Linked DNA regions of Homo sapiens: regions 2 and 3 are each reported to be linked to region 1. The links are microRNA targets in miRTarBase. Many come from high-throughput screens and were not tested one by one. Region 1 holds a microRNA gene; each other region holds the end of a gene's coding sequence.

Region 1 (4,066 bases):
AGGAGAAGGCGCAGCTCCAGGACCTCAATGACCGCTTCGCCAGCTTCATCGAGCGCGTGCACGAGCTGGAGCAGCAGAACAAGGTCCTGGAAGCCGAGCTGCTGGTGCTGCGCCAGAAGCACTCCGAGCCATCCCGCTTCCGGGCGCTGTACGAGCAGGAGATCCGCGACCTGCGCCTGGCGGCGGAAGATGCCACCAACGAGAAGCAGGCGCTCCAGGGCGAGCGCGAAGGGCTGGAGGAGACCCTGCGCAACCTGCAGGCGCGCTATGAAGAGGAGGTGCTGAGCCGCGAGGACGCCGAGGGCCGGCTGATGGAAGCGCGCAAAGGCGCCGACGAGGCGGCGCTCGCTCGCGCCGAGCTCGAGAAGCGCATCGACAGCTTGATGGACGAAATCTCTTTTCTGAAGAAAGTGCACGAAGAGGAGATCGCCGAACTGCAGGCGCAGATCCAGTACGCGCAGATCTCCGTGGAGATGGACGTGACCAAGCCCGACCTTTCCGCCGCGCTCAAGGACATCCGCGCGCAGTACGAGAAGCTGGCCGCCAAGAACATGCAGAACGCTGAGGAATGGTTCAAGAGCCGCTTCACCGTGCTGACCGAGAGCGCCGCCAAGAACACCGACGCCGTGCGCGCCGCCAAGGACGAGGTGTCCGAGAGCCGTCGTCTGCTCAAGGCCAAGACCCTGGAAATCGAAGCATGCCGGGGCATGAATGAAGCGCTGGAGAAGCAGCTGCAGGAGCTGGAGGACAAGCAGAACGCCGACATCAGCGCTATGCAGGTGCGGCACGGCCAGAAACACAGGGGGGCGGGGGACTCGAGCAAGGGGGGGAGTTGGTGCGCCCAGAAAGTGGAGACCAGGGGTGGTGCGGCTGCACGCAGCTCTTAGGGATAGGGCTTGGCTCCTTGGCCACTGTGTGGGAGGGGTGGGGCACTTGAAGGGCGTGAGTGCGGGCGCCACTGTAGTCTGGGAGTGTGCTCCGTGCTGCTGCACCGGCGTTCCGCATTAAAGCTGCCCAGCCCTTGTTGGGTGGGGGAGGGGAAGACGTGGGAATTGGGCGTTGCCTCCGGCCTGCAGTGAGATCAGCTCTCTACTGACCTGCATTAACCACAAGTTACTTTGCAGCAACTATCGGATCATCTAGTTAATAAATAGTAGAGTGAACAACTCTCAATTAATTCTGAAGGATTACTGTGACCAGCATGCTTTATGACTAGTTTTACCAACCACTCCCTTCCTTTATTTAGTAGGTAGACAGGAAAATAGTCAACATTGTTTTAGGTAGTTAACTAGTGATGTTCATAGTAAACCATTTCCTTTTACCTTTTTTTTTTCTTTTTTTCTTTATGTGTAAAATCTTCTACAACATTTCTGTTTAAACATCTCCATCTTCTGGGGAGTAGAAAAAATACAATTTTAAAAAGATCTCCATTTTAAAACATCTCCATCTTCTGGGGAGTAGAAATTTTTTTCTTCTTCTGGGGAGTAGAAAAAATAATTTAGATACATAGGAAATATTTCATAGAAAATAATTTTTTTCTTTTTTTTGTTTACATCTGGCTATTTTCTTCTCATAAAGAAAGGCATTAGTTTCCTGGCATGTAACCCAGCTAAAGAAGAGTTAATCAGTGAATGAGAGACACAGTTTTTCTATCAACTTAGTCTGTTTGCATGCATTTTATGATGATCATTAAACAGTATTAAGTAAAGAAACAGAAGAACAGAATTTTCGTCCATCTTTTTTTTCATCTCAGGCTTCATGAACTTGGGTATTTTAGGCATGAAGGTTTTTCAAAAGATACAGGAAGTTATTCTAGGAGAGATTTTATCAAAGGTGTGCACCTTGATTTTAATCGAAACTAGGCCTTTGCAACTACACTACAGTAAAATAATAGAAGGGATTTATGCTCGGATTTTTTTTTTGTTTTATTTTTGTCTTCAAACAGGACACGATCAACAAATTAGAAAATGAATTGAGGACCACAAAGAGTGAAATGGCACGATACCTAAAAGAATACCAAGACCTCCTCAACGTGAAGATGGCTTTGGATATTGAGATTGCAGCTTACAGGTGAAAATAGAGGGGCAAAGACAGCAGCCATTAAACCTTAGGAAGAAAATCAGATCCCATTTAAAGTTATGTTGGATCAGAAACCTTCAATAATAGTCCTTTTGAAATAATGAAGTGTTAGTTTTTGGCTTCTTCCAAGAAGAGGGTATTTAGATATATAAGAATTTAACCCTGTAATTAGGAGTCCTGTTTTTATCTTGTCATTACACTTTAAATCTAATAGGATGATTTATTTATATTTTTTCTGGTCTCCATCAAAAGATCCCCAGGCATTAAGTATTGATAAATCCCAGCCCTGCTCCTGCTTGCCTTTGTGTTTAGGGTACTCAGAGCAAGTTGTGAAACACAGGTGTTTTTTAACCTCACCTTGCATCTGCATCCCCAGGAAACTCTTGGAAGGCGAGGAGACCCGACTCAGTTTCACCAGCGTGGGAAGCATAACCAGTGGCTACTCCCAGAGCTCCCAGGTCTTTGGCCGATCTGCCTACGGCGGTTTACAGACCAGCTCCTATCTGATGTCCACCCGCTCCTTCCCGTCCTACTACACCAGCCATGTCCAAGAGGAGCAGATCGAAGTGGAGGAAACCATTGAGGCTGCCAAGGCTGAGGAAGCCAAGGATGAGCCCCCCTCTGAAGGAGAAGCCGAGGAGGAGGAGAAGGACAAGGAAGAGGCCGAGGAAGAGGAGGCAGCTGAAGAGGAAGAAGGTATGATAAGAAAAAACCCCTGCAACTTCAAGTGTAAACTGGGTGTGGAGATTTGTTAGGAGGTGGATAAGACAAATGAAGCCTTGCTCATTTATTCATATATGACATTAGAATCATAAATAAATTTTCTGTTTGTTTAGCAAAACTTTCCTAAGGCATCTACTCTGAATGAGGTGATTGGTCAAAATTTTCATTTTTTAATATAATCATTTAACACAGCAGGTTGGTGTCCTAAAGAACAAAAATAGATACCAGACACATAATGAAAGAAATATTGAGGTTAAGTCTTGGAGAGGAGCAGAGCTTCCCATACCTAGAAGTGATCTCATTCGATTTAAATATGTGTTCAGTGGCAAATTATTCATGGCAAGCTTTGTCTGTTACATGTGCTTTTGGAGAGAGTGGAGCTGGGAGGTTTTGGTAGCATTCTGACAGTTGTGTTTGCAAATAAAACCTTTGCAGACATGTTTTGACTGGACTTACCCTGGATTTGCATTTTGTACATTTTCTTTTTATGTTAAAGCTGCCAAGGAAGAGTCTGAAGAAGCAAAAGAAGAAGAAGAAGGAGGTGAAGGTGAAGAAGGAGAGGAAACCAAAGAAGCTGAAGAGGAGGAGAAGAAAGTTGAAGGTGCTGGGGAGGAACAAGCAGCTAAGAAGAAAGATTGAACCCCCATTTCCTTAATTATTTCAGGAATAATTCTCCCGAAATCAGGTCAACCCCATCACCAACCAACCAACCAGTTGAGTTCCAGATTCTATGTGAATTAAAAAGTCAATATATGTATAATTCTGAGATGACTTAGGTTGGACATTCAATGTTGTGCTATGAATTTCCTCTTTATGCAGAGTATCTGTTTGCTTGCAGAGTGGCTTTCTGGCTTGCTGCCAGCCTGTGCATGGACCACGCTTATGAGTTCAGGATCTACGGCAATGTGAATCATTCAGATGTTTACAATAAAAAACACCACATGAGTAAATGAATTCACTAATGTTAATGTTAAACTTCATGGAAAAATAGTCCTTTGAACCTTCGGTGGTTAGCAATTAAAGACCCTGAGTTATGTGCAATAAATAGTAAATAAAGTTATACCGAATGATGTATTTTTTGCTGTGGTTGTTACTTAATTAAAATACCTTAAAGATGGCACCAATATAAAGTATATACCAGTGGACTATTGACCTCCAATTTTTTAAAAAGTTGAAATTTTAACAATTACCAATACTTTTTTTTCTTCCTTCAATTGGAAATTCTGAGGGATACAGTTATGTCATGATTACTTGTGAAATCTCT
Region 2 (4,066 bases), not on the chromosome of region 1:
ACTCACAGGGGCAGGAGATGAAGGATACACCAGTGAGGCAAACAGAAGACCGAAAGAATGTCTTATTCTTCCATTGTTTTCATTGAGAGCTCTGATTTTTAGAGCTGGAGATTATAGCAAGACCAGGGAAAAGAAATTAGGAATGGAGGAAGGTGAATGGAGGAAGGTAGATGGAGGAAGAGGGAGATGAGAGGAAGGAATGAGTGACCTGGCCTGGAAATCTGAGGTTTTCTGGAAATCAGGAGTTTCTGGGAGGGAGAGTGGAAAGAGGGGAGGAGAAATTTGAATTGGGGGCAAGGTTGGAACTTTCTAAGAGGCAGTCGTGTGGCCCAAGACACTCCCAAGACACTGGGGGAGCCCTGAGGGCAGAAGCCTGGTTAGGAGGTGAAGTAATTCTTGGCAAAGCCTTTTTGACACAGGAAGGCATGGAGCCAGGAGCCTGGAGCAAGACAGGGAAGGTGGAGATGCAGGAGGGATTGTGAAAGCTTCAATGCCATCAGAGGCCAAGGAAACCAGGCAGAACTTTCAGGGCAGGAGAGAACCTGTGCAGATTCCAGTTCATTTCTGTTAGAGCAACAGAGATGTGCAAAAATGAATAAAACAAGGAGAGGGAAATCTTGGGCTTTAGGCTTCCTTTGTGAGCAGGAGGGAGGCTTTTACTGTAAGGGTGGATGGTACTTCTATGTATGGTAGAGGCCACCAGCCTGGTTGGGCTAGAAATCATGGCATCTAGGTTCCAGCCCCAGAAGCCTCTTTTATCTGCTACGTGAACTTGCCTATTGATGTGGCTTTGCTTGTTCCATGAAGATGGATGGGACAGCTGAATAAATGGGATACCTCTCTGTCCCAGCTATGACATAGTTTTCTGGATTTTGAAATGTGGGACTGAATTGGAGCAAGTCTGTAGACCTATCTCTACTTCTTTTTTCTTCCCTCCTCCCCTCCCTCCCTCCCTCTCTCCCTCCCTTCATTCCTTGCTTCTAGACCCAAAGGTGAAGCAGAAGAAATCCTTGAAAAGAAGTAAGCATTGCAGTAGAATTTTCCAACCCAACTGACATCAGAGCCTTTCAGCCAGACAGTGGTAAGGCTGGGATGAGAAATGTCTTGGAATCAACTCATCAACAACCCCTGAGAGAGACAGAAACCCTGTCAGAGACAGGGCTTGGGGAGGACCCCTGGGGAAAAGTGTCACCCTGGGGGCTGGAGAACTTGGTGCTGAGAAGCTTTGACACTGGAGATGGGATCAGCTTTCTGGTTTGGTGTATACCTGCATGTAGACACCTGGGAAGGGCATTCTCAGCCACTCAGGTCCTTTCCCCTCACCACCAGCATCCTGCCTTCCAAGGGATGGCCACAGATTAGACGATTCAAAGGTGCTGGGCTCAGGGGCCCAGCTGGGAGCCACCTGCTCTATTCAGACTCACTTCTTCCTTTCCAACCCTCTTAGCCTCACCTTCTGGAACAAACTCTTATAAACCCCTGGGGACCAGCCCTTAAGAAGGTTTATGTGTCTGTTGGGAGGAAAGCAGAGAGGGTAGTCCCTGGCCTTCCAGCCGCACGACTCCAGGAATGCATCCCCAGTGTGGGGTCTGACAGTGGCTTTCACAACCCCCAGCCTCCATCCCCCTAAGATCCAGGGTGATGGTTTCCTGTTCCTGTTGGGAGGCACACCCTGCAGAGGGGAGAAGGAGATGAGAGCTTTGGAACTCTTGAAATCAGTGAAAGGACACAGTCCATTGCTTTCTCTGTGGTTTGTGGACTTGGTTAGATTAAAAATCTCCAGGGCTGACACCAATAAATTCTCCTTCTACACTCGCCTTTTTAAAGGGCCATGAGTGCAGAACTGAGGGCAGGTAAAACCCCATTTATAAGGGCACTGCTGTTGGATCTGACTGTTTTTAGGATCACACCTTCACCCAATAGCCTGGAGTTGATTCCCCCAGCCCCAACCCAGCGGGTGCCCTGGCCCTGAGAATGAGGGAACCCCTTCTTTCCCCCACCAGGCTCTCTGGTCTTGGGGGAGCGGATGCTGCTGAATTCACTGTCACCTCCCCAGGAGGCCGTCACACCATGCCAACCCCCAGGCTGGAGGCGGGGAAGAGGCTGAGGTGGGCGGGCAGTGGCGGTCCCCCAACAGAGCTGAGGACCATGGTCTACCAGGTACCCCAGTGCCTGCACAAAGGGATGATGCTGTGGGGACCTGCCCAGTTAGCCCCTAGGCCAGTCGCCTGGAGGACCTTTGTTTGCTTTTGCTAATAGGTCTTTGTCCCTTTGATCCAGAGGAGGCACGGATCTGAAGGATCAGCTAGGAGGAATAAAGTTGCAGGGAGGATGTGGGGGAAGGGGACACAGGCAGTAGGAGTGATCTCTGAACTGAGCAGGTAGACAGAGATGGGGAAGGAAGGATGAGCGGAGAGGATGCAGGACAACCACCTCTCATCCTCCTTGTCTGGGGGCTGAAAAGCTGCTCTCTAGAAACTTCTGTCTAGGTCCTGCCGGAGGTGCATGTGGGAACAGGTGGAGCCCTGCAGGATGCGAATGTTGAGCCCGAGACCCCGCACATCACAGTGGCCCTCCCCACCCTGGCTCTCTGGCCACCGCAGGTGCCTCCTGGGAGCAGAGCAGGGGTGGAGAAGGCAGCCTGAGTGGCAGTCATGGTCAGGTCTAGAGGCCTGGAGGGAGTGCGGAGATGATCGGGTGTCTGGGAGGGCCAGCACCCCATTGCTACTCCCCTCTGCGAAGGCTACAGCCAAAACCCCAGAAAACTCAAGGGTGAAATCCTCAGGGCCAGGGAAGGAGCACAGCCCGCTGAAAGGACAGGCCCAGGGTCCTTATGGGCGGGCAGTCAGCTGGAAGGGGGTGGAGTTCCCACCAATGGGGAGGCAGCTGAAGGAAGGGAACCCCTCCTGGTCCTGGAGTTGAGGGGAGGGGCACAGGGCCAGGGTTGGGCCCTCAGGGGTCAGCAAAGGAAGGGTCACTCAGTGGGGACCAGAGAGTTCCAGCAGGCAAGAAAAGAATCATTATTGTGCTTATGGACACAGCAGCTCCCTGGCTCTGAGAGAGCGAGCAGGCAGTTTTTAGGCACTAGGAGATTTCTGTGATGCGGTTCTAGATGAATGAATGAGACCGAGTAGCCTATCCGGTCAGCCCACTGATTGGACCCGCTGGCCCCTTCAAACCCAGGCAGCTTCAGACCACAGTCAAGCAAGGGTCTCTCTGCTGACAGAACCTGCAGCTGAGTCCCCCGGATGGGGAGAAGGAGGCGCGGGACGGAAAGGGAGTTGGTGAAGGTGGTCGGGGGTGAGAATGGGGCCTAGCCCCCTCCTCACTCCCCACTGATTCTTCTGGAGGAGCAAGAGCGATTGCTCTTGGTCCTGGGTCTAAGTGTATTGGACCAGGCCATCGGGGCTGTGTCCCCGGGGGTATGGCTTTTTGGGCAAAGGTGGCCCACCCCCACTTCCTACAGAGGGGACAAGGGAAGGGAGAGTGGCAAGGCTAGAAGCTCTGCTCCTGGCCCCTCCCGGCCCCCGCTCTGCTCTGCCACGCCCAGCAGCCCCGGCCCTGCCCCGCCGGTCACACGGTCACTTCGGTCTTGCTGGCTGTGTAGCAGGTGTGGTGGCCCGGGATGTAGTGCAGCTGCTCCACCGTGTTGTGTCTGCGTGAGGCAAAGGCATGACGCTTGGCTGCCGTCTGGCTCTGGCCCAGGGTGGCGTATGAGTTATTGGAGGCACTGGGATGAGAGTGCATCTTGCTCATGCGGTAGCGGTCCAGCACGGGTGTGGACACAAAGACGTCCGTGTGCGAGATGGCCCTGGACAGCGACTGCTCGGGAAAGGCCGTCCGCTCCGGGGACAGCAGCGGGTCCTGGGAGTGCAGGCGCTCCGTGGAGAGCAGCTGCTCGTCGGACAGGATGCGGTCGTAGGGCATGCTGAACTCATCTGGCAGGCCCCGATCCGGGGACAGGACCCTGTCCTGGGACATGGCCCGGATGGGCCGGCGGGGTCGTTCCCTTGGCAACGGCTTCTGTTGGGACATCTGGATGACATTGAGGGGGAGGGTGCCGCGG
Region 3 (4,066 bases), not on the chromosome of region 1:
AACACAAAAAAATTAGCCAGGCGTGGTGGTGGGCACCTGTAGTCCCAGCTACTCGGGAGGCTGAGGCAGGAGAATGGCGTGAGGTTGCAGTGAGCCGAGATCGCGCCACTGCACTCCAGCCTGGGAGACAGCGAGACTCCATCTCAAAAAAAAAAAAAAAAAAAAAAAAACTATAAGATTTTAATTAGGAGGAATGAGTTCAAGAGACCTATTGTACAACATGGTGACTATAGTCAATAACAATGTATTGCATTTTGAAAAACGTTGAGATAGTAGGTTTTAAGTGTTCTCACCACAAAAAATAGTATGTGAGGGAATGCATACATTAATTAGTTCAACTCAGCCATTCCACAATGTAAACCTATTTCAAAACATCATGTTGTATATGATAAAATAATTTTTAAAAGTTTTTTAAAATTTTTTAAATAATTTTGACAAATTATTCAGCTAAGCTGCTTTTACATTCCTGGCCTTCAGATATGATGTGAGATAATAAATATTTATTATTTTAAGCCACTAAATGTGGGGTAATTTGTTATCCAGCAATAAATAGCTAATACACCAGATCTTTATCAAAAGGGAAAAATTATATACAGACTGTGAGAGTGGCCCCCTTTATTTATGTTACCCACCTAGCCCCTGTATGCATTTGAGTTTGTGACCCCTACAAAATCACTAAGTCAGTTTCTCTAATTACATTATACATACGTGTGTTTGTACCTAAGGCAGAGACCATGACATTCCTTTATTTGGTGTCCCTTCCTCCAGGATGACTAGTTCAGTAAGTCCCCTAGTAAATCCTTGTTCGCTACTGGGGAGAGGATTAAAGTGGGATACAGAGTAGAGATTTGTGGAATATCTGTTGTGCCTAATTTTCAAGCCCTTGTATTATGTTCCTTGCTCAGAATCTTTCCTTTGTTAGGAATCTTTCCTGGGTTAGGAATGCTACAATTGCTGATCAGGTGTGGTAAGAACAAGAATCTCAGACAGGGCTCATATTAAATAGAAGTCAGCTGGGCGTGGTGGCTCACACCTGTAATCCCAGCACTTTGGAGGCTGAGGCGGGCCGATCACCTGAGGCGGGCAGATCAGGATTCAAGACTAGCCAGACCAACATGGAGAAACCCCGTCTCTGCTAAAAATACAAAATTAGCCGGCATGGTGGTGCATGCCTGTAATCCCAGCTACTAGGGAGGCTGAGGCAGGAGAATCGCTTGAACCTGGGAGGCAGAGGTTGCGGTGAGCCAAGATGGTACCATTGCACTCTAGCCTGGGCAACAAGAGCATAACTCCGTCTCAATAAATAAATAAATAAATAAATAAATAAAGTCGATCATATACATTAGGTTGAACCATATAAAATTGCCACATTTAACTACTAACACAACATATATGGTTCAATCTGCAGTGGCGCGATCACGGCTCACTGCAACCTCCATCTTCCAGGTTCAAGCGATTCTCATGCCTCAGCCACCCAGGTAGCTGAGACTACAGGCATGCACCACCACACCCGGCTAATTTTTGTATCTTTAGTAGAGACGGAGTTTCACCATGTTGGCCAGGCTGGTCTCGAACTCCTGACCTCAAGTGATCCGCCCACCTAGTTTTCCCAAAGTGCTGGGATTACAGGCATGAGCCACCTCACGCGGCCCAACCTAATACATATATTTTTAACATACCTGATCCACTCACAATTTGTCCCTGTGAGAGGTGACAGCGTGCTGGCAGTCCTCACAGCCCTTGCTCTCGGCGCCTCCTCTGCCTGGGCTCCCACTTTGGCGGCACTTGAGGAGCCCTTCAGCCCACCGCTGCACTGTGGGAGCCCCTTTCCGGGCTGGCCAAGGCCGGAGTCGGCTCCCTCAGCTTGCAGGGAGGTGTGGAGGGAGAGGCGCGAGCGGGAACCCGGGCTGCGCGCGGCGCTTGCGGGCCAGCTGGAGTTCCGGGTGGGCGTGGGCTTGGCGGGCCCTGCACTCGGAGCAGCCGGCCGACCCTGCAGGCCCCGGGCAATGAGGGGCTTAGCACCCGGACCAGCGGCTGCGGAGGGTGTACTGAGTCCCCCAGCAGTGCCAGCCCACCGGCGCTGAGCTCCATTTCTCGCCGGGGCTTAGCTGCCTTCCCGCGGGGCAGTGCTCGGGACCTGCAGCCCGCCATGCCTGAGCCTCCCACCCCCTCCGTGGGCTCCTGTGCGACCCAAGCCTCCCTGACGAGCGCCAACCCCCTGCTCCACAGCGCCCAGTCCCATCGACCACCCAAGGGCTGAGGAGTGCGGGCGCACGGCGCGGGACTGGCAGGCAGCTCCACTTGCAGCCCCGGTGTGGGATCCACTGGGTGAAGCCAGCTGGGCTCCTGAGTCTGGTGGGGACTTGGAGAACCTTTATGTCTAGCTAAGGGATTGTAAATGCACCAATTGGCACTCTGTATCTAGCTCAAGGTTTGTAAACACACCGATCAGCACCCTGTGTCTAGCTCAGGGTTTGTGAATGCACCAATCAACACTCTGTATCTAGCTGCTCTGGTGGGGACGTGGAGAACCTTTGTGTCTAGCTCAGGGATTGTAAACGCACCAATCAGCGCCCTATCAAAACAGACCACTGGGCTCTACCAATCAGCAGGATGTATTGTGGTTTCATCTGGAGGGATAGACATGACCAAGATCAGCTATGGATGCTCTCCTAGGAGGCTGGCCTCTCTGGGCAACATGTCCAAAGCCTGATGGGCATTGCCAGCATTCCCCAAGCTAACTTTAAAACCCAAATATGCAACTTACCTTTTGGTCTTAGGACCTAACCCTAATGCTTTCCTTTGTTGCCATGTTTTATTCCTGCTGTTACATGGTGGAGGGTGTGGGAGGCTTGGGTGGAAAGCTATAGCAGCCTGGGGGGATGGTGGTAGTGGTGGTTTCCAGGGCACAGGCTCTATGCGCTCTGTCATCGGAGCTGGACACAGAGGGTGGGACTGCTGCCCAGGACACACACCTGGGCTGACCACTTGTGCTGTGGTGCTCCTTGTTTAACCTGCCTCTTATCTTTGAGCCATTTGGCTTTTGAATCCTTCACTATGCTTAAGCCAACAAGTTGGCAAGTGATATCTGTCTCCTAATCAGCTCTACCTCCTCCACCCACTAACTAGCAAATGTTGGGTCAGGGGTAACAAAGTAAAAAGAGGTTTAGCTCTCCAGAGGCGTTTGCCCATGTACAAGTATGTTCTGGTAGAGGTTGGGCAGGTTTAGGCACTAACGGGTGCCAAAAGGCTCCTGGGCAGGAAGAACTGGAAAACAAACTTGTTCTTTCTCCCTTCCTCTCCCTCCTCCTCTAGCTTGCCTCAACAACAGCCAGATATGAGAAAGAAGAGACGGACAATTTATTCCACATCACTCAAGCTCAATCAAGGCAGGGAGAAAGCAGAGGAGTGCAAAATCCTCCCTTTCTCATTCCTTGCAATGATGAGGACCAACCTATTCAAGGGCTGGGGGAGGATGAGGAGATGGGGTCAGATGAATGGACAGAACTTGGTGCCAGGAGTTCAGAAAAGATTACACATGTGTATCCTTCTGCTCAGGATCCAGGACTCCCTCCTGGGTGATGGGGGTGTCTGTGATCGTCTGTGCCCTTGGAGATTCTTCTACTGAGCCGAAACTGCTGCTGCAGGACACGGCACCACTGGGGTGGCTCAGAATCAGACTCCAGAAACTTTTATGGTTGAAGTAGCAAAGGATCGCTGGGAAAGGACAGGGACAGGGGAGAGGAAAGTTGTGACTGGGAGGTTAAGTGACAAGTAGGGTGAGACCAAAGGGAAGATAAGACCCTAAAAATCTAGCCCTGGGGATTGCCAGCCTCTTCCCTCCACACTTTCCCTGCCCTACCCTACCCATGTCGCTTCCTTCCCCCAGGGCCCTCTGGCCACTCACCGCAGGTGAAGTATAGGATAAGCACCAGCCAACCAATGAAATAGCTCCAGCCTATGGGGATGGATACATTCCTTTCCAACTCGAAGATCCAGATGTTAATGGGGAATAGCATGAGGGTGGAGAAGATGAAGGTGACTAGGAGACAGGAGGCAGAGGGTC

Evidence for each region. The annotated mature microRNA hsa-miR-6841-3p reads ACCUUGCAUCUGCAUCCCCAG and lies in region 1 at 2,435-2,455, shown strand. An mRNA with a match to its seed (bases 2 to 7 or 8) in the 3' UTR can be bound and repressed. Matches are read on the target gene's strand: a 7mer-m8 pairs with bases 2 to 8, a 7mer-A1 pairs with bases 2 to 7 and ends in A, and an 8mer does both.
Region 2: the mRNA of SHISA6 is a reported target of hsa-miR-6841-3p. Seed matches in the 3' UTR shown: 7mer-A1 at 972-978.
Region 3: the mRNA of ODF4 is a reported target of hsa-miR-6841-3p. Seed matches in the 3' UTR shown: 8mer at 3,432-3,439.

The regions. Positions count from the first base shown.
Region 1 is chr8:24,952,185-24,956,250 of GRCh38, reverse strand. It overlaps MIR6841 (microRNA 6841), which reads left to right and starts at 2,384; the gene lies at 2,384-2,455. It overlaps NEFL (neurofilament light chain), which reads left to right. Exons shown (of 4, transcript NM_006158.5): 1 at 1-779; 2 at 1,946-2,070; 3 at 2,456-2,775; 4 at 3,299-4,066. The coding sequence ends at 3,441. RefSeq lists an enhancer at 889-2,088.
Region 2 is chr17:11,557,812-11,561,877 of GRCh38, reverse strand. It overlaps SHISA6 (shisa family member 6), which reads right to left. Exons shown (of 6, transcript NM_207386.4): 6 at 1-4,066. The coding sequence ends at 3,574. Among named protein-coding and RNA genes, the nearest start is that of DNAH9, 39 kb to the left of the region's middle.
Region 3 is chr17:8,345,319-8,349,384 of GRCh38, reverse strand. ODF4 (outer dense fiber of sperm tails 4) reads right to left here. Exons shown (of 3, transcript NM_153007.5): 2 at 3,908-4,042; 3 at 3,339-3,717. The coding sequence ends at 3,533. Among named protein-coding and RNA genes, the nearest start is that of ODF4, 7.5 kb to the right of the region's middle.